Linked DNA regions of Homo sapiens. The protein of the gene in region 1 interacts with the protein of each later gene in a pairwise test. Each region holds a gene or a part of one and is shown in the gene's direction. Other genes may lie near its edges.

The links.
Region 2: the proteins of RAB3IP (region 1) and SUV39H2 interact in a two-hybrid assay, tested with the Homo sapiens proteins (one large-scale study listed by BioGRID and IntAct).
Region 3: the proteins of RAB3IP (region 1) and TXNDC5 interact in a two-hybrid assay, tested with the Homo sapiens proteins (one large-scale study listed by BioGRID).
Region 4: the proteins of RAB3IP (region 1) and SSX2 interact in binary tests that used the Homo sapiens proteins (3 or more experiments, as listed by UniProt).
Region 5: the proteins of RAB3IP (region 1) and ZNF76 interact in binary tests that used the Homo sapiens proteins (3 or more experiments, as listed by UniProt).
Region 6: the proteins of RAB3IP (region 1) and ZBTB16 interact in binary tests that used the Homo sapiens proteins (3 or more experiments, as listed by UniProt).
Region 7: the proteins of RAB3IP (region 1) and PLOD3 interact in binary tests that used the Homo sapiens proteins (3 or more experiments, as listed by UniProt).

What each region holds. Positions count from the first base shown.
Region 1 is NC_000012.12:69,741,860-69,745,359, forward strand, and holds part of RAB3IP (rab-3A-interacting protein isoform alpha 1), read left to right. Parts: intron 1-3,500. UniProt on the Homo sapiens protein: Guanine nucleotide exchange factor (GEF) which may activate RAB8A and RAB8B. Promotes the exchange of GDP to GTP, converting inactive GDP-bound Rab proteins into their active GTP-bound form.
Region 2 is NC_000010.11:14,885,366-14,888,865, forward strand, and holds part of SUV39H2 (histone-lysine N-methyltransferase SUV39H2), read left to right. Parts: intron 1-3,500. UniProt on the Homo sapiens protein: Histone methyltransferase that specifically trimethylates 'Lys-9' of histone H3 using monomethylated H3 'Lys-9' as substrate.
Region 3 is NC_000006.12:7,883,903-7,886,788, reverse strand, and holds part of TXNDC5 (thioredoxin domain-containing protein 5 isoform 1 precursor), read left to right. Parts: intron 1-745; coding exon 746-828; intron 829-2,300; coding exon 2,301-2,430; intron 2,431-2,886. UniProt on the Homo sapiens protein: Protein disulfide isomerase of the endoplasmic reticulum lumen involved in the formation of disulfide bonds in proteins. Can reduce insulin disulfide bonds.
Region 4 is NC_000023.11:52,700,679-52,704,178, reverse strand, and holds part of SSX2 (protein SSX2), read left to right. Parts: intron 1-1,548; coding exon 1,549-1,598; intron 1,599-3,500.
Region 5 is NC_000006.12:35,262,735-35,266,234, forward strand, and holds part of ZNF76 (zinc finger protein 76), read left to right. Parts: intron 1-3,500. UniProt on the Homo sapiens protein: May be involved in transcriptional regulation.
Region 6 is NC_000011.10:114,066,211-114,069,710, forward strand, and holds part of ZBTB16 (zinc finger and BTB domain-containing protein 16), read left to right. Parts: intron 1-3,500. UniProt on the Homo sapiens protein: Acts as a transcriptional repressor. Transcriptional repression may be mediated through recruitment of histone deacetylases to target promoters. May play a role in myeloid maturation and in the development and/or maintenance of other differentiated tissues.
Region 7 is NC_000007.14:101,207,582-101,211,081, reverse strand, and holds part of PLOD3 (multifunctional procollagen lysine hydroxylase and glycosyltransferase LH3 precursor), read left to right. Parts: intron 1-408; coding exon 409-550; intron 551-637; coding exon 638-751; intron 752-920; coding exon 921-989; intron 990-2,124; coding exon 2,125-2,229; intron 2,230-3,357; coding exon 3,358-3,500. UniProt on the Homo sapiens protein: Multifunctional enzyme that catalyzes a series of essential post-translational modifications on Lys residues in procollagen. Plays a redundant role in catalyzing the formation of hydroxylysine residues in -Xaa-Lys-Gly- sequences in collagens.

The sequences.
Region 1 (3,500 bases):
CTTATAATGCTGAAGAACTTTGTAATTTAGCTTTTATGAGATACGTAATGTTAATGTAATATGTAATTCTCATTGTGTCACCAGAGATTTTTTTAAATCAAATACTCATTGAGCATCTACTCTGCAAGTCACAGTAGGGGTTAAAGGAAACTGTTCTTAAGGAATATGGAAGGTAGGGCCTTATAATCATTCCCATATCTTTTATAAGTTCTTCAAAATGTAGAACGCACTTTACATATTTTAATGAATGTCAACTAAGACAAAGTGCTAGGATAGTTGAGTAGTGGAGAGGAAGGACAGATGGATAGTGGGTAGAGATATTTGTGCATTGAGGTAATGAGGGAAAGCTTTGAAGATATTCCAAGGGAGTACGCTTTTTCACACTAAACTTTTTTCCGATATAATTCTGATTAAGATGCAGTTCATCAAAGGATAGTAAATTGGTTACTACGCATTTGATATCCTAAAAACAAAATATCTGAGCTTTTGTAAACTGCTTTCTAGCTTGTTTCTCCTTTTTTATGCTACTATCCTTAGTTGTACCAGATGGTACTCTTTTTAAAAATTTTATGCTTTTATAATACTGAGTACCTCTTTTTTGGTATTTATGAACTTTGATATTTGTGTTGTATTTGTAATTGTTTCTAGGGCCCTAGAAACATGTTTATTGGCAAGGTGGTCTCTTCCTCTAGTCTACAAGTGCTTCGAGAGTAGGGCTTACCTCATTTTATAGCTTTAACATCGGGCCAGGTAAGTACTGTGCTGTGTTTGGTGATGGATGATCAGTTGAAGAATGTTAGGATGTTTTGAAGCTGCTCTAGCAGTAGAAATTGAAATGAACATTGAGAAATGAAGGGACAAAGGAAGGAAGAGGAAGATATTTATACAACTGGGAGCATTAACTTGCTATCTCTATTTTCCCTTCTGCTTTCCTTTTCAACTTACCACTAAATGAGGTAGTTTTATAAGCTTACATCGTACATAGTCATGGTTAGAGAAAAGTGGAAAAAGTAATCTGATTTATCTTAGAATATAGGGCAACACGAAATTAGATAACTATAGCCGTAAACTGATATTACTTAGAGGAAAAAGAATGAAAATTATTCAAATAGTTCAAGTTCATGAAAGATTTGATGCTTGTCGTTAACAGTAGGATTGTAAATATAATCATAATGGCAGTTGATGAAATTCCTCTGAGGGGTATGGATACATACACAAATAAGTATATGAATTGACAGCTTAGTATGAAGAAACTATTCAAGAATGTGAGAATGCCCTATGAGCATAAAGGAGCATATAGATGATAGCTTAGAACCACTTAAATAAGTGAATTGTAATTTGATATGCCCAGATAAAAGTAATAGTATTGAATATTTGTTTGGGAGCATCTGGTTGTCAGATAAGGATAAAGTATAAAAGAAAAACCAAAATAAGTTTGAAAAAACAATAAGCAAATTTGTATCAATTCCCTGTGGGGAAAAGAATCATATTTGAACTACATGCCTCATAAAGACTAGTTTTCCCTTTCTTTCCTTTTACCTAAGATAAATAAAGATACCTTCTGATTTGTAAGACAAACCCCTCAGTATGCTTTTGCTATTTCCCCCATTACATTTTTTTCTTTCTTAGATCTTTATAAAATCATACATTTATGTTGTGCTTTACAATGTATACATTTTTACATTGATATGCCATTTGATTTTCTCAAATGTAGGCAGGGGAGATAATATCACTACCATTATAGATGTCAAAACTGAACCTTAGAGAGATTAAATGACTTGCGTCAGTTCACACAGCTTGTCAGTGACAGAATCTGAACTAGAAGGAAGGTTTTCTGAAGTTAGTCTGTTAAAATGCTCAGGTTTTCTCAAACTTCAATTTCTCCAGTTTTGATACTCTCGCAAAGTATTTACTGTTTCATTTCTATCTTTTTCAGCAAAAATGTAGCCTGAATAACTGTCTCCACTCTTTACCGCTTTGCTATTCATTCCTTCTCTAAAGACTCTTGTTTATTTATTTAGTCAGTGCGTATTTCAGCACCTGTTGAATGTTTAGTTGGCATATATTCTTAAGAGAATATGTAAAATGAAGCTTCCATTATTGAGAAAAAGAAATTTGGAAAATGATTTTTTTAAAAAATTATACTTTTAAGTTCTGGGATACATGTGCAGAATGTGCAGGTTTGTTACATAGGTATACACGTGCCATGGTGGTTTGCTGCACCGGTCAACCCATCATCTACCTTAGGTATTTCTCCTAATGCTATCCCTCCCCTAGCCCGCCACTCCCCCACAGGCCCTGGTGTGTGATATTCCCCTCCCTGTGTCCGTGTGTTCTCATTGTTCATCTCCCACTTATGAGTGAGAACATGCGGTGTTCTGTTAATTTAAATAAATATTTAATTACAAATAAATATTTGTAATTAAATATTAGCTCATTGTATTATTACAAATAATTATTTGTAATTAAATATAATATTAGCTCATAAGTTCAGAACATTTTCTGAAAACTGTCAACATAACACACTGCAATAACTAACATCTCTACACATGTCAGGTTGTACATTGAAGTGTTGTGGAATTAGGCCGGGCATGGTGGCTCACACCTGTAGTCCCAGCACTTGGGAGGTTGAGGCAGACAGTTACTTGAGGTCAGGAGTTCGAGACAAGCCTGGTCAACATGGCAAAACCCCATCTCTACTAAAAATACAAAAAATTAGCTGGGTGTGGTGGCAGGCGCCTGTAATCCCAGCTATTCAGGAGACAGATGTTGCAGTGAGCCGAGATTGTGCCACTGCACTCCAGCCTGGGCGACAGAGCGAGACTGCATCTCAAAAAAAAAAAAAAAAAAGTATTGTGGAATTAGTGGGAATTCATTTGTGATCTATTATAATAAAAATGGGAAAATTGTGTAGCCTGATTGACCATTTGAGTAATTTTGCCCTTGGGCTATTAATTACATTTGCATTTATAAACATAGAATGCTTCTTAAAAGATAAATGTGATTTTTTTTGTCATAACTAAAATGCTAGTTTGGGAAGCCAACTTTAAAATTATTATGAAAGCTAATGAAAAAATGATTTTATATATATACTTGTTTTGTTTTTTCCTCCTTTATTATACAGTATTTGAATAAATTTTGAACTTTCCTTTTTATTTTGAGAGCACTATAAATTATGGAGAGTTTCAAATAAGGTAAGTAGACACAATAGTATAATGAACCTAAAAGTTTCCATCATGTAGCCCAGTAACTATCAACAGTGATCAGTCCTCATCCATCCACTTCTCCCACTTCTATATTATTTTGAAACAAATTGCAAGTCCTGTGTAATTTCACCTGTAGGTATTTCAGTATTTCCCAAAGATAAGAGCAGTTAACTGCAGTACTTTTACAAACTTTGTTCTTTATTTATTTTTTCATTTTAATCTACATTTCCTGCTTTTATTATTACAAATTTTCAAAAATTAACACTAATTCCTTGGTATAAAATATCTACACTT
Region 2 (3,500 bases), on another chromosome or scaffold:
TTAATTCTTCGTTTCTTTTTACTCTCTAAATCTAATGGGTTATCATATTATGTTATCTCTATCTCTCTGTCCTTTCCTGTTCATTCCTGCTGTGCTTTCACAGAGAGAATTAGTAATAGTTACTTACGGGTCTGTGCTTACATTAAGGGAGCTACCAAGATTCTTGTGTGGAATCCTGAGTGTTGTAGTTCAGTTTCAGATCATTTTTGCTGTTTAGTTTCTTCTTAGTCTTTCTCATCAGTTCATCCCTTTTCTTGCTTCGGAATAAGTGACCTTCCTTTGCTCTCTTATGTCCTCAGTACCCCACATACATCCCCCATTTCTTCTGTCTGGCACAGATATTGAATCTCTAAGCCAGCATTACTTTAGCATACCTCTGCCTTTTTTCTTCTCTTTCTCTTTCTTTTACAAATTCAGAGTAGGTGAAGGATCTTATGACCTTGTCCTTTTCTTGTGTGACCACCTTCACTTAGCTCATGAAAGATACTGTCTCAATACCATAGTCTACCGTGCCATTATAGTTGTTTCTTAAACCTAGCTCTGATTGCATTCAAGCCTTGCTTTAGACCTTTTCATGGTTCCCTATTTAACAGTCTCATCTGAGACATGTTAGCATAGGACCAAGGTTCTTTATCATCTGGCCACCCGCCACCTTTCCAGCCTCATCTCTTGTCATATATCCTATTTTCTGAAATTGAAATATTTATAGATCATTTCATTTAGCTAAGATGTACTGAGCACCTGTTATGAGCTAGGCACTGTTCTAAGCATTGGAAACATAGCTGAAGAACAGACCCAGCTTATATTCTAATGCCTTGAACATATCATGCACTTTTGTGTCCCCTTTCCTCATCCATTTCCCTCTTCAGAATACTACCATTTCTCTTCCCTGGACCGCAAAATCCTACACAGCCTGCACAGTTCAGTGCATAGGTCACCACCTATTGTAGAACCACCTGCCCTTCCTCACCTCCAGCAAAATTAGTTGATTTATGTTCAGGATTTACAAAGCACCATTCTTGCCATTACTCTAGAACTTGTCGCACTTTATGGTCTTGTTTATATCAGATCTTCCCTGCCAAATCATCCACCATTTGAGGGCCAGGACTATGTCTCATTTTAGTCCCGGTACAGAACGGGTGTTTGGTCCATGGTCATTGAATTGAATTGTCTTTTGCTTCGGTCATGTTTCTAGGGCCTACATTCACTATTAGACTAGGCCTTCCTGGCTTCATGCTTAGATGATAGCAGCATTCTGTTGACTCGTATCTCCTGTTTCTTTTTCTCGTATACTTACTCAACAAATATTTGAGTTTCTTCTGTGTGCCAGACACTGTGTTAGGCACTGGGAATAGAAAGATTAATAAGAAACTCCCTCACTATAAAGAACTCACAGCCTAGTGAGAAAGTTTGACAAAGAAATAACCCGTTGCAGTGTAGATGTATAAAAAGTGCTGTGGCAAACATCGTTAGAAGATCTGTGGGAGGTGCACCTTGGATAGGTCACAGAAAGCTTCCCAGAAGTGATGTCCAAGTGGAGCCTGAAAAGGCGAGCATTGTAATTGACTAGGGCTTCTGTCTGGAGAATGAGGTGGTCGGAGATGGATGTGGGAAAGAAAGAGGTGAGTGAAGGATTTTTCAGCCATCCTAAGGCAATGGGGAGTTAGTTGGCAGGTTCTAAAGAGAGTGACACATCAGGTTTGTAATTGAGAGAATTTTCTCTCTGCAAAAAAGAAAGGGGATTGATAGGGAAAGGAATAACACGTGCATGGCTGCATGTTCTGAATGGCTGTCATAGTAACCAGACCAGAAACAATGGTGCTTGGACTAAAGTATTAACGATGTCAAGGAAAAGTAGGTGCACGGTTCTTTTGTTTTTTAAAAAAAAATAAGGATGTAAAATGTATGTCTGTGGCTTGTGGTCACAGGGTTGGGTGGGGGTCTGGTAGTGAAGGTGCCAGGTCTAGGAAAATACAGGTTTCTGACTTGGGCAGTGGTGTAGACAGTATTACTGTTCACCAGGAATACAGGAGTAGGAACTAGATTGGGTTTGGGGACCCATTTCCAGTGGGTTTAAGTTCTACTTAAAACATACTCAACTTTCTTGAGTACTTTCAAAATGTACTTTCTTGAAGACATTTTAAGTGGAACTTAAACCAACTGGAAGTGGGGCTCAAATCAGTAGTGAGATCTAACTAGAAACATAGATCCTAAAGTAATTGGCAAAAAGATAGAGAGGGAAGCCTTGGGAGTGGATGCAGTTTCCTGTTCATGAACTCAGCCAATATTTACTGGCCATCTACCATGTCCTGCACTAGGAATTGGGAATCTGAGCAATGACTGATGTGAGGGTACGGTCCCTGATACTACAGAGTTTATCGTTCAGTGAGGGTAGAAATACCTTAAATACAGTTGGACAAAGTACTTATTGTAGTTGACGTAAGTGTTGATGTGACAGAAAGATCTCACTTATCCTGGAGAGACTGGGCAGGTATCCCTGAGGAACTGATGTTTCAACTTAGTACTAAAGGAAGAAAGGGATATGTGGGAGGGATTTCGAGGCAGAAGACAGCCTGACTTCAAGGAGTAGAAAGAGGGCCTTCAAGGAATAGAGGGTGTGAGTGGAACAGAGCAAGTAAGAGGGAGCATGTGAGGCTGGCGGGGTGGGCAGGCCCCAGAGTGTGCGGCTCCTCATAGGCCGAGGAAAGGATTTTGGACTTCCTCTTAAGGGCGTAGAGAACCATTTAGTAGTTTTAAGCAGGGGAGCAGCATGCTGAGATGTATGTGTTGAAAACATGACTCTGGCTGTTGTGCCCTGAATGGGTTGAGGGTGGCAAGAGGCGATTGCAGTAGCCCAAGCAAAGCAAATGTGAGCAGAAAACAAGGATTGAGGATGAGCCCTGAGGAGTAGGTGGGGACACTCATAGGAAGGACTGTCAGAGTCTGAGACACACTGGCAAGAGAGGTAGTCAGAAAATGGGAAGAGTTGGCCGGGCGCAGTGGCTCACACCTGTAATCCCAGCACTTTGGGAGGCCGAGGCGGGCAGATCATGAGGTCAGGAGATTGAGACCATCCTGGCCAACATGGTGAAACCCCGTCTCTACTAAAAATATAAAAATTAGCTTGGCATGGTGGTGCGCTTGCCTATAATCCCAGCTGCTTGGGAAGCTGAGGCACGAGAATCTCTTGAACCCAGGAGGCGGAGGTTGCAGTGAGCCGAGTTTGCACTACTGCACTCCAACCTGGTGACAGAGCGAGACTCGGTCTCAAAAAAAAAAAGAAAGAAAATGGGAAGAGTAAATCATGGGAACCAGAGAAAAGATGATGTCAGCAGGAGAGTATTAAACAGTAGGTCAGAGAACTGGAAAGAATCCACTGTATTTAGTAATGGAGGGTCACTGATGCCCTTAGAGCACCTCTGAGAAGAGCCAAAGGAATGAATTAAAGAATGAACCAGGCCGGGTGCAGTGGCTCACGCCTGTAATCCCAGCACTTTGGG
Region 3 (2,886 bases), on another chromosome or scaffold:
ATAAATCATCCCATTCCTGCTCTCAGGAGAGAATCGCAGATCCATTTTTGGAGAAACACATAGACGTCATTCTGTAAAGAACTGTCAAGGGAGAATGGCTTTAAAGCAGACTACCATGTAGCACCTTTCCCTTAAATTCTCCAGCCAGAGCTTCCATCAGCGTTTTTCACATTGACTTAGAACAGGCTGCTTTCCATTTTTATGTTCAATGTAAAACAGGTATCATTGCCTTTGCTATTGTAACTAGGTTCTTTCTGTTGCATAGAGAGGATGTCACAAAGGGTGCTAGGAGAATAGGGTGGCCAGTGAGAAAAGCGGCTGAGGATGAGACTTCAGTGGGTATCCTGGAGACTCCAGGCTTAGAGGTGCAGACTCAAGTGTCAGACACCCAGGGCTGCCTGGTCCACACCACAGCGCCCTGGAGAGTTTTCAACCTGCCTCATCCCCAAAAGACAGTCCCCCTCCCCACCTTCATCCCCTGTACAGTGTCCAGCCACCTCCTCACCACATCTCCCAGGCTTGGGACCCAGGGACTTGCATTGATCTCTCTGCCCTTCAGAGGCTGCCAGCCTCCCTTTGTGTGTAGCCTATGAAATGCAGATTGTGTAGGTATTTCTGTGTGACCTTGGAGCCTACGTAACTGCATTTTTAAAAAATTACTGATTCGTGTATCTGCAATCCCAAAGCATGGCCCTGCTCAACTTTAAGGGATGTACTTGAACTGTGGCTTTTTCCTCCCTTGAAGGGCACTGTGTTGGCACTCACTGAAAATAACTTCGATGACACCATTGCAGAAGGAATAACCTTCATCAAGTTTTATGCTCCATGGTAAGTGGCTGTTTAATTAGAAACTACTTTGTCCATGTGTACTAAGTCACATCATGTTTTTCAGCTCATCTGCCACCCCTCCAGACTCAATGTTGGGCACATGTTACATTTATATGTAGGTCATGTTGTAGGAAATAAGGAACCGTTATCATGCTCCTATATTCAAATATTTTAAACTTCAATGGCCTTAATTATATATGGAGAATGAGGCTACAGTTATATCAACTTTGATTATATATGGAGAATGAGGCTAAAGTTATATCAACTTTGGAGAAAACATAAAAATGGAGGCAAATTATGATGGCCATATTCAGTTTTGTGGTATCTGCACTTTTCCAAATAGATGGCTTTTCTTTTTGGCTAAACAATGAGTGTCATGATGTAGCTTTGCTCCTCGGTTCTTTTAAGTACTCGGATTTCTTTTGTAGAGAAATCCAGTAGAGTCTGTTAGAGCCATTCAGTATGCTACGCAGTTTCCTGAACCTGCATGCCACGTGGTCTTGGAGACCAGAGCAGAAATGGATTGCAGGTAGTGTGAGATCCAGACAACCTTGGTTCTAAGACTTACCGTGAATGACTGTATAGTAAACTTGGATGTCCTTTAATTCCTTTGAACCCCAGTTCCCTCAGCTGAAAAATGGGAGTAACTTTTTGTCTTCACAAATAAAACAATCCATTTGGAAAAGCAGAGTGTTAGGACAACAGTAGATTGTTTATCTAAACATGATAAAGGCGTCACTTTTCTTGTTTGTTACACTCCACATGTTCCTGAGAAACTAACCATAGGGGTAAAAAGTTAATAAGCACAGGACTTGAACGAACCATAGCAATGCCTTTCAAATCATTTGCAACATTTAAAAACCTAAAGCTCCACAGATCAAGTATCAAAAAGGAGGATCCCCTTTGGCTGAAGGGGAGCCATCCATACGGCAGGAGGGGGTCAGAAGAGACAAGGGAACAGAGTCGGGTAGAAGGGAGGGTTTGAACCAAACTTAATCATGGCCTTGATGCTCACCCCACATCGCTGAAGTACCAAGGAGGCCTTAAAATGGTTTTGAAATTGTGAGACCATAAGCAATCAAATCTAAAATGTCTTTGGCATTCAAGTGACCTTTTAGAAATTGTGTGGCATCTGCCCTGTTCCCTGTTCCTCTGCTCCTGTGCTTTCATAAACCAGTTAGCACAGTTCACCATGGCATGGAAATGGTCTCAGAATCTCAACTTGTTTTGAGACTGGCTTGCTTCTGTCACATTATCTGAAAGTCTACCTTGGATCAACTTTTGGGTTCTTCATTTGGGATAGGAGGAGGAAGAGTTAATGTGCACCCAGTGGGAGAATTTGGTATTTTACAAATTTCTAGGCAATTGTTGACTGTCCCATACAGAAGAAACAGAGCTTGTCTTGGCAGCAGAGTGTAGGTGAATGATCTCGACCCAGGATTTCAACGAAGCTGCCATTTTTCTCGTCTTAGGTGTGGTCATTGTAAGACTCTGGCTCCTACTTGGGAGGAACTCTCTAAAAAGGAATTCCCTGGTCTGGCGGGGGTCAAGATCGCCGAAGTAGACTGCACTGCTGAACGGAATATCTGCAGCAAGTATTCGGTGGGTACTTGGATGGATGCTTATGGGAGCTCTCAGTATGGGGGCAGATCCCAAGGGAACTGTGCCTCAACCACGATAACTCACTCTGCTCTCATCTTCTCAACAATGTGGTTTTTATGTCCCTTTGAGTTGTTTGTTTGGAGAAGCAAAAGAGATCCTCTCTCAAAGGGAAGGCATTCTTCTTCGCCCGCTTTGTAGTTAGTATCCATGTTTCAGTGCAGGTTTTCAGGCCTTGCTGTCTGAGTAACAAGGCCGTGAAGTAACAGACCCCACGCCATAGACTGTGGGGCTTCCCACACCGCGACTCTTGATGATTGACCAGTGGTCTGTAGCCTTTGCCATAAATACCCGAGTCGCTCATTTTTCACACATAAGCCAGCATTATAAAATGCAGTGGCTGAATCTAAGAATCATTTCAACATAACCTCCTTTCTGAAAGGGCCATGCCAGCAAGTC
Region 4 (3,500 bases), on another chromosome or scaffold:
GAGTGCGGCACAGACAGCTTCAGCTGTGACTTGTTGATAGTGTGTTTTGTTTGTTTTTGTTTTTGAGATGGAGTTTCACTCTTCTCGGCCAGGGTAGAGTGCAATAAGGCAATCTCAGCTCACTCCAACTTTCACCTCCTGGGTTCAAGTGATTCTCCTGCCTCAGCCTCCCGAGTAGCTGGGGTTACAGGCACGTGCCCCCACACCCAGCTCATTTTTTAATTTATGGTAGAGACGGGGTTTCACCATGTTGGCCAGGCTGGTCTCAAACTTCCTGACCTCAGGTGATCCACCCGCCTCAGCCTTCCAAAGTGCTGGGATTACAACTGTGAGCTACCACGCCCGGCCTATTTGCAGTTTTTCTAATATTCTGAATAAATAAATCAGACCTAACATAGCTGTGGGGTAATGTTGAGATCCGACTGGACTCAATATTATTCCCCATACTTTTCTGTGTGTTTGAAATATTTCTTTTTTAAACGACATGTTGTTCTTCCTAAGCACCGTTAATGAATCAAAGGACTGCTAAAAAAATGCTACAAGTGAAAAAAAAAAAAGAAAGAAAGAAAGAAAGTGTTAAAACTGTAGATCCGCCAAAAACTTCCAGAGTTTGTTTCATTAACAGCATGTAGGTATTGGATAGGTATCTTAGGAGTGAGGGTGATGAACACATTATGTAATAAAGATCGCTGTTTCTCTGTATTGGTTTATCAAAACCAAATAGTCTTCTCATTCCCAAAGAACCCTGATTCTCCGTAATGAGCTTGGAAGAGAGTTTGAAGGAGTGATCCCTTATCCAACACACAGAGAGCTTTCCCACTTGTCAGAGAGCAGAGATAACATAGGGTGAAAAAAAGATAGGTTCTTGGGTAGAGAGCTTTGTACATTTCAGGAATATAAAGGGGACATATGTATTTACTTGCTCTTCTACTCTGACAACATAATTATAAGACAAGGTCAGAATGTCCAAACCGTCTCCAATAGACCTATTACTCGCCAACTAAACAGGCCAGATTCTACAATCTCCCGCAATCACTATAAGAGACCTGAAAAGCCAGTGCTTGAGTATCTGCCAAGTTTTGACAGTAAAGGAGTGTCTTTATACTGAAAATATTTCAGAGCCACTGGACCAAATCATCCATGGTTCATCACACATTTAACAGCTTAATTCACATACCATAAGATTCACCCATTTGAAGTGTACAATGATTTTCAGTTGTTGCACATCTTGAGTGGATACAGTTCAGATTCCTAACCAATCAATTTAATTATTTGGGAAAAAGTAAAAGATATGTAATGGAATAAGATGAGACTGTGATGGGGTGTAGTCCCCATGTGATAAACCATGAGATGGAAAATTCTGAATTGATGCCACAGATAAATGCACCAACCATGACTAAACATAATTCAGAAGCAAATCTGAAATAACTCCTCAACAATGAGTGGACTCATAACCCTCTGCTGCAGAATACCCTGATGCGACAGAAGTCTCTCTAGAGTTTGGAAACCTTTACCAACAAAGAAAAATTCTGATGTATTCTCTTTCAGTTGAACGTCCTCAGATGACTTTCGGCAGGCTCCAGGGAATCTCCCCGAAGGTGAGTGTCTCTCAGATCTAAAGGACCAGAGAACCTTTGTCCCTCCACGGATGCGAACACTGGTAAGAGTGGGAGAATATCAAAAATGCCCTCACTGCCTTCTTCTCCCCATGTCTATCACAACACCTGATGTCGCACCGACGGCTTGATAGTACCAACAGTTGCGATTGTTAATACTTCTTTTGTTTTCATAGTGATGCCAGATACTATTTCAAGCAGTTCACATGGATTAATTTATTTAATCCTTAAGAAGACATTGTTTCTATTATCTCCAAATAATAATGAGTCACACACTTCAGTTTTCATCCATATGAAAGCCATGTGACTTGACACAAATCTTCTAAGTTCTCTGAGCTCCAGATTCCTGGTCCATGAAATGGAAGTAAAGAATTATAGTTCATGTTTTAGATCATAGTTATCAGCAACATAATAATAAAATGAGGCTATCGTGGTACAGAGATGTTAAAGAATTTTCCTGGGGCGCAGTGGCAGTGGTAGTCTAATCCAGAGCTCCAAGCCATTTAAAGCTCATTCACATTTGCATTTGTCTATGAAGTTCAGATGTTGCTCACTAGGGCTTCACCCCATAGGGCCTGCTGGTGCTTCCAATGAGACACCCACTCTCTCAACAGGAAGGACCATCTGGTCTCTGCTGTGTTGCTGGGGCCACTTGCATGGCTTAGGAATCACTTTGATTGTTGGCCCCTCCCTACTGTGAGCTCCTTGAGTGCCTTGTCTGCACCTGGGGCATCTGGGAAGGCCCAGTCCCAGCCCAGGGGATCCCTCGGAGGCCCCTGAATGAGTGATCCCACAAGTGCAGATTCAACTCTGGTTTGGAGGGTAAAGGGATCTGGGAGTTGGGTTGCCAGTGTGGAGACTGAATTCAAAGAAGGATTGTGAAAGGTATTAATTGTTATTATTACGACATTTAAACAGTGTTTACAAGCTCAGAGAGGACTTTACTGTAGGCTATTTGACATGTATGGTTCACTATTTCATAAGGGAGGAAGCTGAATGAAAAGTAGCTTAAGAGCCGGGCGCGGTGGCTCACGACTGTAATCCCAGCACTTTGGGAGGCTGAGGCGGGCAGATCACGAGGTCAAGAGATCGAGACCATCCTGCCCAACATGGTGAAACCGTGTCTCTACTAAAAATACAAAACTTAGCGGGGCGTGGTAGTGCCTGCCTGTAGTCCCAGATACTCTGGAGGCTAAGGAAGGAGAATCGCTTAAACGCGGGAGTCGGATGTTGCCTTGAGCCGATATCATGCCACGGCACCCCAGTCTGGCGACACAGTGAGACTCCGTCTCAAAAAAAAAAAAAAAAAAAAAAAAAAAGAAAGAAAGAAAGAAAAAAAAAAGTAGCTTAAGATTGTTGGTCAGTGACACATCCCAATGCAACCAGAATTGGTATGGGTACCACCTCACTGAATTCCACATTGAATGTCGGTGCCCCAGTAGGGTAGTATGTCATATCTGGTACTGCTTTGTTTGCTGCCTAGATTAATTTCGGCAAACCATTTCTTTCCCTCTCCCTTCCCTGTATTCATCTCCCCACACCATCTTTCCCAGCAGTGTTTTGTCGCCTCCCTATGTTTTTACATTTACTCTCCCAGCAGCTGTCTAGAAGCTTATATGGGATCCCTTGTATTTTACAGAACCTCTTCCCTTTGTAGACCTTGTGAATTCTTAGAATGCTACTCTTCTCCAAATCATCTGTATATCACACTCTCAATTACATGGAGATTTTTGCTGTTTGCAAGAATGTCAGTCCTAAAAGAGTGGGAAGATAAGCATTCTATCCCTGGAAACCATATTCACTTAGGCCATTCCTTTCCCTTCTAACCTCCCCTCCCAGGTTTCTCCTAATTTAGGCCTGTGTAACTCTCCCAGTGTTGTTGAG
Region 5 (3,500 bases), on another chromosome or scaffold:
TCTTGATGTGACTAGCTTCAATGGAATCGGCTCCTTCCATCCCAGCATGAAGCAATCCTGTATAACTTGCACACCCTCCCATTCTAAGGCCTCTCCTCTCATACCCTTGCCCAGTATCCTGTGAGATCCTGCCTCTCAGATTCCTCCCTCACCTTTTCAAACCCGGATTGTCTTTCACCCTTCCACAGGGCCTCCTCTTCCTGCCTTCCTCTTATTTGTCCCCTCAGCCATCCTCACCTCACCAATCTTGATAATTGATTACAATATAAATCTCCCTTCCATCTCAGGTCTGCTCCTTTCTTCCTCCACTCTCTTGTGCATCTATCTCCAGGGCCATGCGTATGCCCCTGCTGCTTTCAGCTCTGCTTCCTTCATATGCTGCACTGTTCCACCAAACTTCATCAGTCTCTTCGGTTTATCCAGAGAACTACACTCTTCTCTGGGAACTTCTGATGACTTCTGATAATAGATCACCAAAGGATCTTGGTTTTTTAGAGGGCAGGGAGAGAGCCCTTTGAAGTCCTTCAGAATCAATCTAGCTGTGTCTCCTGGACACCCTCCCACTATCCTATCCTGTTATGAAGCTGCTTGCTGTATATGCCCTCAGAGTAGAATGCTTTGGGTGTCAGCTTCTGCAGGCACTGAATTAGCCCCATTGTTTTCCAAGCCCTGGGAAAACTTGATAATCCCCAACCACTGAAGTCTGAAGAGTCAGTAGCAAAATGTGACATCAAAGATCCACATCCAAAAGTCTATTCTGTGGGTCACCAAATTCCCAGGTCTCTTATAATGTACTTATTGGCTGTGCAGCAATAAATACAGCAGAAACTAAAACTAGAGTTGAGGAAAGGGTATACCCTGGGTTCTACAACTGCTGTGGGTGGATTTTAAAAAGGAGTTCTTGCCTTAGATTTGTTTACTTAGGGCACAGAACTTATTCTGCCTTGTATTTGAGTTATTTGTGTACTTTTCTCAACCCCACTCTGTGAGCTCTGTGAGAACAGAGACTAGGTTTTCTTTTTTCTTTTCTTTTCGAGATGGAGTCTTACTCTGTCACCCAGGCTGGAGTGCAGTGGTGCAGTCTTGGCTCACTGCAACCTCCTCCTCCTGAGTTCAAGTGATTCTCACACCTCAGCCTCCCAAGTAGCTGGTGTTACAGGCGCCTGCAACCATGCCCAGCTAATTTTTGTATTTTTAGTAGAGACAGGGTTTCACCATGTTGGCCAGACTGATCTCTAACTCCTGACCTCAGGTGATCCACTCGCCTCAGCCTCCCAAAGTGCTAGGATTACAGGCATGAGCCACTGCACCTGGCTGGTTTTCTTTATCTTCTGTCTTCATCTCTTCCCTCACATTTAGCAGGTAGTCAGTACTTACCTGTTGGATTAAATTAACTCACTCAGAAATTCTGCATCAGGTGTACAAAAGTAAAAGCAGTTCATGTCTACATTCATTTTGTGGACACAACACCCCTCCCCAAAGTTCTCCAAACATGATAATGGGCATGTCCCTTGATTTAAACGTCGGTAATTTAGACACTTCCTTTTTTAGTCATTGCTCGGGTGGGGGAATGGGTGTAAGTGCTTTTCTTTTTCTACTGTATTTCTGGTAAGATAGGTTGTTTGACGCAGTTGCTCAAATACAGTGGTAACAGCATCAGGGGCTGTCTTATATAAATCTGTTCTCAAGAAAACAGCTAGTTTGAAATATTTAGTGTGGGTTGCAGAGACGATTAAGGAACAGAGGAAACCAAGGAGGCAAAATGTTGGTAATTTTTGAAGTTGGATAATGGGTTCAAGAGGTTCATTATACCATTCTTTCCATTTTTGTGTATGTTGGAAATCCATTATAAAAAGATTAAAGGCAGGGGCAGCTAGGTGAACAAGTGCAAATTTAGCACTGTTCCTTGGAAAACACCTCAGAGCAAATGAGCTACTGTTTCTGAATCAGTACTGTTATCTAGGTTAAGTAGTATATTTAGTCCTAACCTTTCTCTGACCTCTTCTGTTTGTGAGATATCAGGATGCTAAATTTAAAAATTAGCACCCTGCAGAATTCTGTACCTAGTGGCCTGGGAATTGTAACATCCTGGCATCAAGCACCTGTTGCACTGCTTCTCAGCTTAGGTATGGTTTCTGGTGGAATAGGGCTGGACTGGACCTGAGAAGAGGGTGAGGCAGTAAGGAGGAAAGAGGGACTGAGGGCTGGAGAGAGACCAGAGCTCTACTAGGGTCTTCCCCTTCTTGCCTAAAGGTTTCAAGTTACTGGGAGATCCTAAAGGTATATATATTCATTCATTCACTGATTCATTCATCCCACAAATATTTGGTGAATATCTGCTGTGTGCCAGGTACTTTTCTAGGTACTGGGAATAGAGCAGTGAGCTCACTGTTTGAGGAATGGACAGGGTAGAGACAGACAATAAACAAATAAGTAAAATATATATTGAGAAAATTAAGCAGAGAAGGGAGATAGAAAGTGCCAGGAGTAGGCCAGGTGCAGTGGCACACACCTGTAATCCCAGCACTTTGGGAGGCTGGGTTGGGTAGATAACATGAGGCCAGGAGTTTGAGACCAGCCTGGCCAACATGGCGAAACCCCAGCTCTACTAAAAATACAAAAATTAGCCAGGCGTGGTGGCAGGCACCTGTAATCCCAGCTACTCGGGAGGCTGAGGCACGAGAATCACTTCAACCCAGGAGGCAGAGGTTGCAGTGAGCTGAGATCACGCTGCTGCACTCCAGCCTGGGCGACAGAGCGAGACTCTGTCTCAAAAAAAAAAAAAAAAGAAGAAGAAGAAGAAGAAAATGCCAGGATTCTGGGTGTTAAAATTTTAAATAGGGTAGTTGAAGAGGTTCCCACTAAAAAGGTAACATTTGAGCAAAGACCTGAAGGAAGTTAGGGGGTAAGTCAAGCATACATCTAGGGGAAATTTATTCCAGTCAGGAAGAACAGCAAACACAAAGGCCCTGAGGCAGGAATGTGCCCTATATATTCAAGAAACATGAGGAAGCCAGCCAATACGGCTGCAGTATATTAGTGAGAGAAGAAATGGCAGATGTTGCGGTGGGGGTGAATTGGGGGCAGATCACACAGGCCACTGGCTTGTAGTGTGAGTTGTGAGTGAGATGGTAGCCATTAGAGAATTCTAGGCAGATAAATAACATGGCCTGACATATTGAAAAGGTCATTGTGGCTGCTGTGTTGAGAATAAGCTATAACGGGGCAAAAATGGAAGGAGAGAAACTGGTTAGGAGGCTACTACAATAGTCTAAACAAGAGAAGTTGGTGGCTTGAACCCAAGGTGAAGCAATGGAAAGGTGAGAAGTGGTTGGCTTCTGGATGTATTTGGAAAGGAGCCAACAGGATTTGCTGATGGACTGGATGTGATATATAAAAGAAATAGCAGTTGAGGGTGGCTACAATTTTTTTTTTTTTCAAGACATCTCGCTCTGTCGCCCACGGTGGAGTGCAGTGGCGTGATCTCAGCTCACTGCAAC
Region 6 (3,500 bases), on another chromosome or scaffold:
TGATCTCATCACCCCTAGCCGGAATCTGCTCTGACCCTGCCTCCTCGACAGCTCAGAGGCTTAACTTGTGGAAAGTGTGGCAGAGCTAAACGTAGCCGACTTTTTCCAGTGGGTGCGAAAAATAACCGCCACTAAGGTGTGTCTTCTTGATGCTTGTACCGCTCAGAAATAGACTGAGGTTGTGTTTGTTTTTGCTCAAACTTTCCTAAAGAGGAAACCCGCTCCCCAAAGTTGACCAGATAGATGTATCATCTTTCCGGATGTGAATTATTTCGGCTGTGTGCTATGAGAACTGGGTATGGTGGGAAGTAATTGTTTTTCTGGCTCTCATCAGGTCCTGGTTCCTGGTTGCTTTTCTTTACCCGAGAGGGCCACAAAAGATACCACTCTCCTGAGACTTCCAAGTTCCCCTTCAGCAAGACCCTCATTCCTCTGGGGAGAGAGGGAGAGTTGGCCATGTTATATTCGAAAGAGCCTGGGTATTGGAATTGGCCATATTTAGTGGTGAGAGCCTGTGATACTTATTTAACCTTTCTGGGCCTTGTTTCACTCACTACATTTTTTTTTTTTTTTTTTTTTGAGACGGAGTCTCGCTCTGTCACCGGGCTGGAGTGCAATGGCGTGATCTCAGCTCACTGCAGTCTCCACCTCCCGGGTTCAAGCGATTCTCCTGCCTCAGCCTCCTGAGTAGCTGGGACTACAGGCACCTGTCACCCCGCCCAGCTAATTTTTTGTATTTTTAGTAGAGACAGGGTTTCACCATGTTGGCCAGAATGGTCTCGATCTCTTGACCTTGCGATCCATCCACCTCGGCCTCCCAAAGTGCTGGGATTACAGCTGTGAGCCACCCCGCCCGGCCTTCACTCACTTCTTAAAATGGAGACGGTCAACAGGGTTGGTGCTGAATTAATGAAGTAAGATCCAGAAATCACTAGAGCTGTGATGGGCACATAGTCACCGCAGCGGTGGAGAACTGACCATCTGTCCCTTGTGTTGTTTAGGCCTCATCTCTGCATGGTCCTCATTGGCTCTGAGTTCTAGTGTGTAGTGTCCACAGTGCCACCCTCCATGAGGGTTGTGTTGACTGTGAGGTGGTGCAGAGAATGTCCCTGTCCTTGTGAGCATATGACAGCAAGACACTGGCCCTGGAATCCTCCGTGTCACATGTGGGCTGCTGACAGGAAGAATGTGCTTTTGTTGTTGTTGTTGTTGTTGAGGCAGAGTCTTACTCTGTCGCCCAGGCTGCAGTGCAGTGGCATGATCTTGGCTCACTGCAACCTCTACTTCCCGGGTTCAAGTGATTCTCCTGCCTCAGCCTCCTGAGCAGCTGGGACTACAGATGTGTACCACCATGCCCGACTAATTTTTGTATTTTTAGTAGAGATGGGGTTTCACCATGTTGGTCAGGCTGGCCTGGAACTCCTGGCCTTAAGTGATCCACCTGTCTCGGCCTCCCATAGTGCTGGGATTATAGGTGTGTGCCACCCTGCTGGGCCGAGAATGTGCTTTTGACTGAGGGTGGAAAGTCAGCAGCTGCAGCCCAAGAAGTTAGAGCCAGGGGCAGTGCCTTTGATGGGAAGCTTGGGGGTCTAAAGAAATCAGAAAGGGGAGAAAATAATCCTGCGTGTGCTCAGCCCTCACTCAGATCAACAGCCCCTCGGGTCCCAGCTAGATGTACTTTGTAGAAGGCTTTTTTTCTCCCCCTCACCCTCAAAACTCCAGGATTAATGTGCTATTCCCTTTTTTCTACTGTTCTCTGTCTCCCCCCAACCCATCAGCAGTCTGAGAAATGCTATGGTGGAAAAAAAAAAACAACAGCCCTATAACCAGTACAAACAAAAAGCCAAGACAAAAAAAAAAAAAAAATCAGAAGGGGAGATTTTGAGGCCAGGAAGCCATGGCATTCACTGGAAATATATCAGTGATAAAATAACAGGCTACAGGGTTTATTTTATTTTATTTTTAAGTCAATAGGCCTGAGTGTTGGTAAAGACTAGATACCCAGCAGTCCTTCTTGCATTTCTTCTTGGGGTGGGGGGGCAGAAGGGAATGGAGAGGAAATGAAGGCGGATTGCTGGTAAGTGAGGCAGGAAGGCAGGGAGTTTATTATGGAATGTCATCGGTAAGTTTCCCCATGATTTGATCCCAAGCTGGTGTGGAGTGAAGGGTAAGCTGTTGGCTCAACAGATAGTGAGAATCAAACTTAGTGGAGTTGTAGAGCCTGTTTCCTGCAGCGGACAGCAAGATGTACAAGCCGTCCACTGCAGGAATGACGTGCTGTAAAAGGGATGCAGTGTCAAGTGTAGTCATGGATGGGTGGGAAGACCAGACAAAGGCATCCAATGGGACTGACTTACCTAAACAAACCAGAAGGAAGTCAGAACAGTGGGAAGATCTGATAGATAAGCAGTATTCTGCAGGCAGATGAAGGAGCAAGCTTTGGGCCCCCAAATCTTCACCAGTGCATCCACATTACAGAGGATAATGCCTGAGGGAGGGGAAGATCATCTCAGGATTCTGGAACACTGGGCCCTCCCTTTCTTATTCCAAAAGGCTGGAGCAGTTCTGCATGTAGGCTTCTCTGGAAATGGTCTAGGAACCAGCTCATCCAGGCCAGGAGCACCTGATCATTCTCAGAGTTACGTACATATGCGATAAGATTGCAGGGAACAGTATAGTTCTATAGACTTAAGTGTGAACATAGTCCTCATTTATAGTCCCTAGTCTCCCATGGCTCACGCAGCTTGGTCTTTATGTGTTTCTGAATTTAGTGCTGCAGAGGCACAATGGGGTCTGGTTTCTGGATCTTATACAGACAAGCACTTAGGTCAGCTGCAGTGGATGTCCTGCACAGACACCGTCGCAACTCTTGCCTGGTTCCTTTTTGTTTTTGGAGATGGAGTCTCGCTCTGTCTCCCAGGCTGGAGTGCAGTGGCGCGATCTCAGCTCACTGCAAGCTCTGCCTCCCAGGTTCACGCTATTCTCCTGCCTCAGCCTCCCAAGTAGTTGGGACTACAGGCACCCGCCACCACGCCCGGCTAATTTTTTGTATTTTTAGTAGAGACAGGGTTTCACCGTGTTAGCCAGTATGGTCTCGATCTCCTGAACTCGTGATCCACCTGCCTCGGCCTCCCAAAGTGCTGGGATTACAGGTGTGAGCCACCACGCCCGGCCTATTGCCTGGTTCTTGAAGGGATTCTCAGGAACCACAGGGAATGTCTGAGCCAGCTTTCTGGATCCGTGTGTACAGCCCTTCCCAGAGGCTTTGTGGAGCCAGCTGTACGGTGCATGAGCTTTGTGGCTAAGATATCAGAGTTCTGCCTGGCCCTTGGCCTTGGTCTCTCTCAGATGGTCAGCTGCTCTGTTTTTAGTGGTTGATCATGTAGAAGGCCAACAGGTGTTGACCTTGGTTTAGGCTACTTTTGGGATTTTTGAGGTTTCCTGAGACTCTTGGTTTTCTTTCATCATCCCGTCCAGAACCTCTGATGTCAAACTAAATT
Region 7 (3,500 bases), on another chromosome or scaffold:
TGGTGAAACCCCATCTCTACCAAAAATACAAAAATCAGCCGGGCATGGTGGCTGGCACCTCTAATCCCAGCTATTTGGGAGGCTAAGGTGGGAGAATTGCTTGAACCTGGGAGGTGGAGGTTGCAGTGAGCCAAGATCACACCACTGCATTCCAGCCTGGGTGACAGAGCAAGACTCCGTCTCAAAAACCAAAAACAAGAAACAAAAAAGAAGTGCCACAGCTTGGGGTAGGAACTGACCGCATTTTGGGAGGTGGGGTGGTTGGGACCAGCAGTGCTTGACAAGGGACATGCAGGGGCCTTATGTTCAGGGACTGGGATACCCTGAGGGAAGAAGGACTTCCCGGGATGAGCTGGGCAGAATTTGGGGGGCTGTCCTCCCAGCTGACCGCGGTGTCGGTGCCTCCAGGGGTGTGTGGAATGTACCATACATCTCCCAGGCCTATGTGATCCGGGGTGATACCCTGCGGATGGAGCTGCCCCAGAGGGATGTGTTCTCGGGCAGTGACACAGACCCGGACATGGCCTTCTGTAAGAGCTTTCGAGACAAGGTGAGCGCGGGTGCACGGTCTGGCCTGGGGGCAGTCCCCCAGACTCCAGGCATCGCCTGCATCACGGACACCCCCACCCCACTACAGGGCATCTTCCTCCATCTGAGCAATCAGCATGAATTTGGCCGGCTCCTGGCCACTTCCAGATACGACACGGAGCACCTGCACCCCGACCTCTGGCAGATCTTCGACAACCCCGTCGTGAGTGGGGACCCCACGCCCAGAGCACACAGGTTCCCCGCCTTGTGCTAAGGAAGACACCAAACGTGATGGCTGCTGCCAGCGCAGGACACTGAGTGGGAGGGGGCGGTCCCCTGGGGGCTGGGAGCGAGGGGGGCACAGATCTGATGTGCCCCCCACCCTCTCACAGGACTGGAAGGAGCAGTACATCCACGAGAACTACAGCCGGGCCCTGGAAGGGGAAGGAATCGTGGAGCAGGTGAGCCCACGCAGCCTCCCCACCCACCCCCTGCCCTCATGGCCATCGCCTCTTGGGGGCCCCCGCCTGGATTCAAAGTTTTCACACTGAGTTCCCCAGAGATCTGAGGGTTTTCTGTTCAGACAAGATGAAGGCAGAGGCCGAACAGAAAGGACTCTTGCCCCCAAAGCCAGCATTGATCAGACAGCCTCTTCTCCTGTATATTGGGTATACTGGTGTTATGCTTGAAATCACATCTTAAAAGAAGAATGGGGCTGGGCTCAGTGGCTCATGCCTGTAATCCCAGCACTTTGGGAGGCCAAGGTGGGTGGATCGGTTGAGGCCAGAAGTCCAAGACCAGCCTGGGCAACATAGCGAGAATCTGTCTCTACAACAACAACAAAAAAATTAAATAAGAAATGAGGCCAGGAGTGGTGCTCATGCTTGTAATCCCAGTACATTGAGAGGCCGAGGCAGGCAGATCACCTGAGGTCAGGAGTTCGAGACCAGCCTGGCCAACATGGCAAATCCTGTCTCTACCAAAAAAAAAAAAAAAAAAAACACAAAAATTAGTCAGGTGTGATGGCGTGCACCTGTAGTCCCAGCTACTCGGGAGGCTGAGGTGGGAGAATCGCTTGAACCTGGGAGGCAGAGGTTGCAGTGAGCCAAGATCACGCCACTGCACTCCACCTTGGGTGACACAGCGAGACCCTGTCTCAAAAAAAAAAGAAAAGAAAAAATTAGCTTGGCATGGTGGCATGTGCCTGTAGTTCCAGCTACTTGGGAGTCTGAGGCGGGAGGATCGCTTGAGCCCAGAAGGTCGAGGCTGTAGTGAGCTATGATTGTGCCACTGCACTCCAGCCTGGTTGACAGAGCAATACCCTATCTCAAAAAAAAAAAAAAGAGGTATGCACTGTTACGGAAGTTTGGAAACCACTGTCCCAGCACGAGGGGCTCCAGGACCCTCTGCCACCTCTCCTGTGCCAGAAACCGGTCCTCAGCCTTGCCACTCCCTCAGCCCCTACCTGGCGGGTCCCCGGCTGCTCTCACAAAGCCTTCCCTGCTCCTCCCTGCCCCTTCCCATTCTGCCTGCTGCCTGTCCCCTTCCCCGTTCTGCGGCGTCAGCTAGCCCTGTTCTCCCTCGCCCCATCCTCAGCCATGCCCGGACGTGTACTGGTTCCCACTGCTGTCAGAACAAATGTGTGATGAGCTGGTGGCAGAGATGGAGCACTACGGCCAGTGGTCAGGCGGCCGGCATGAGGTAAGGGCCTGGGCGAGGAGGGCAGAGGCCTTCCCAGAGGAGGAGGTGCAGGATCTGGTAAACAAACAATGGAATCAGGAAAATGGGAGCAAAGAGGGGTTCCCAGGGGGGAGGCAGACCCTGGGGTCACAACTGCATTCATTCATGTATTCAAGAAATATTTACTGCTGGGCACAGTGGCTCATGCCTGTAATCCTAGCACTTTGGGAGGCTGAGGCGGGAGGATTGCTCGAGCAGGGGGAGTTTGAGGCCAGCCTGGGCAACATAGCGAGACCCTGTCTCTACAAAAAATTTAAAAATTAGCCGAGTTTGGGCCAGGTGCGGTGGCTCACGCCTGTAATCCCAGCACTTTGGGAGGCCGAGGCAGGTGGATCACCTGGGGTCAGGAGTTCGAGACCAGCCTGACCAACATGGAGAAACCCCATCTCTACTAAAAACACAAAATTAGCCGGGCATGGTGGCGGGCGCCTGTAGTCCCAGCTACTCGGGAGCTGAGGTAGAATTGCTTGAACCCGGGAGGCAGAGGTTGCAGTGAGCCAAGATTGAACTCCAGGCTGGGCAACAAGAGTGAAACTCCATCTCAGAAAAACCAACAAATTAGCCGGGCATGGTGGCATGTCCCAGCTATTCAGGAGGCTGAGGCAGAAGGATCACTTGAGCCCCAGAGTTAGAGGCTGCAGTGAGCTATGATCATGCCGCAGTACTCCAGCCTGGGTGACAGAGCAAGACTCTGTCTCTAAAAAAAGAGAAAAGGAAATCATTCCTGGGCCACTGTCCTAGACTGCACTGCAGGAATGCCTCATGCCGGTCGAGCTCTGCCCTGCTGTGAGCAGCAGCCACCACACAGCTTCTAAGGCTGCGATGAGCAGCCTGGGTGCAATAGAAGCCACGGGGAAGCCTTGACCCAGACTTGGGAGGAGTAGGGAGCTTCACAGGACAGGTGACATCTTAGCTGAGACTTGAAGGGCCGGGAGCAGTGAGTCAGGCCGAGAAGTAGCAAAGAAGACTGTTCTGCACAGAGGAACACAGGTGTGAAGGCTGGAGGACGGGAGGAAGGAGGCTGGACTGCCCTGGGGTGGGGAGCGCCATGGCTGGAGGGGCGGGTGGCTCAGTGCCCGCCGCCCCCAGGATTCAAGGCTGGCTGGAGGCTACGAGAATGTGCCCACCGTGGACATCCACATGAAGCAGGTGGGGTACGAGGACCAGTGGCTGCAGCTGCTGCGGACGTATGTGGGCCCCATGACCGAGAGCCTGTTTCCCGGTTACCACAC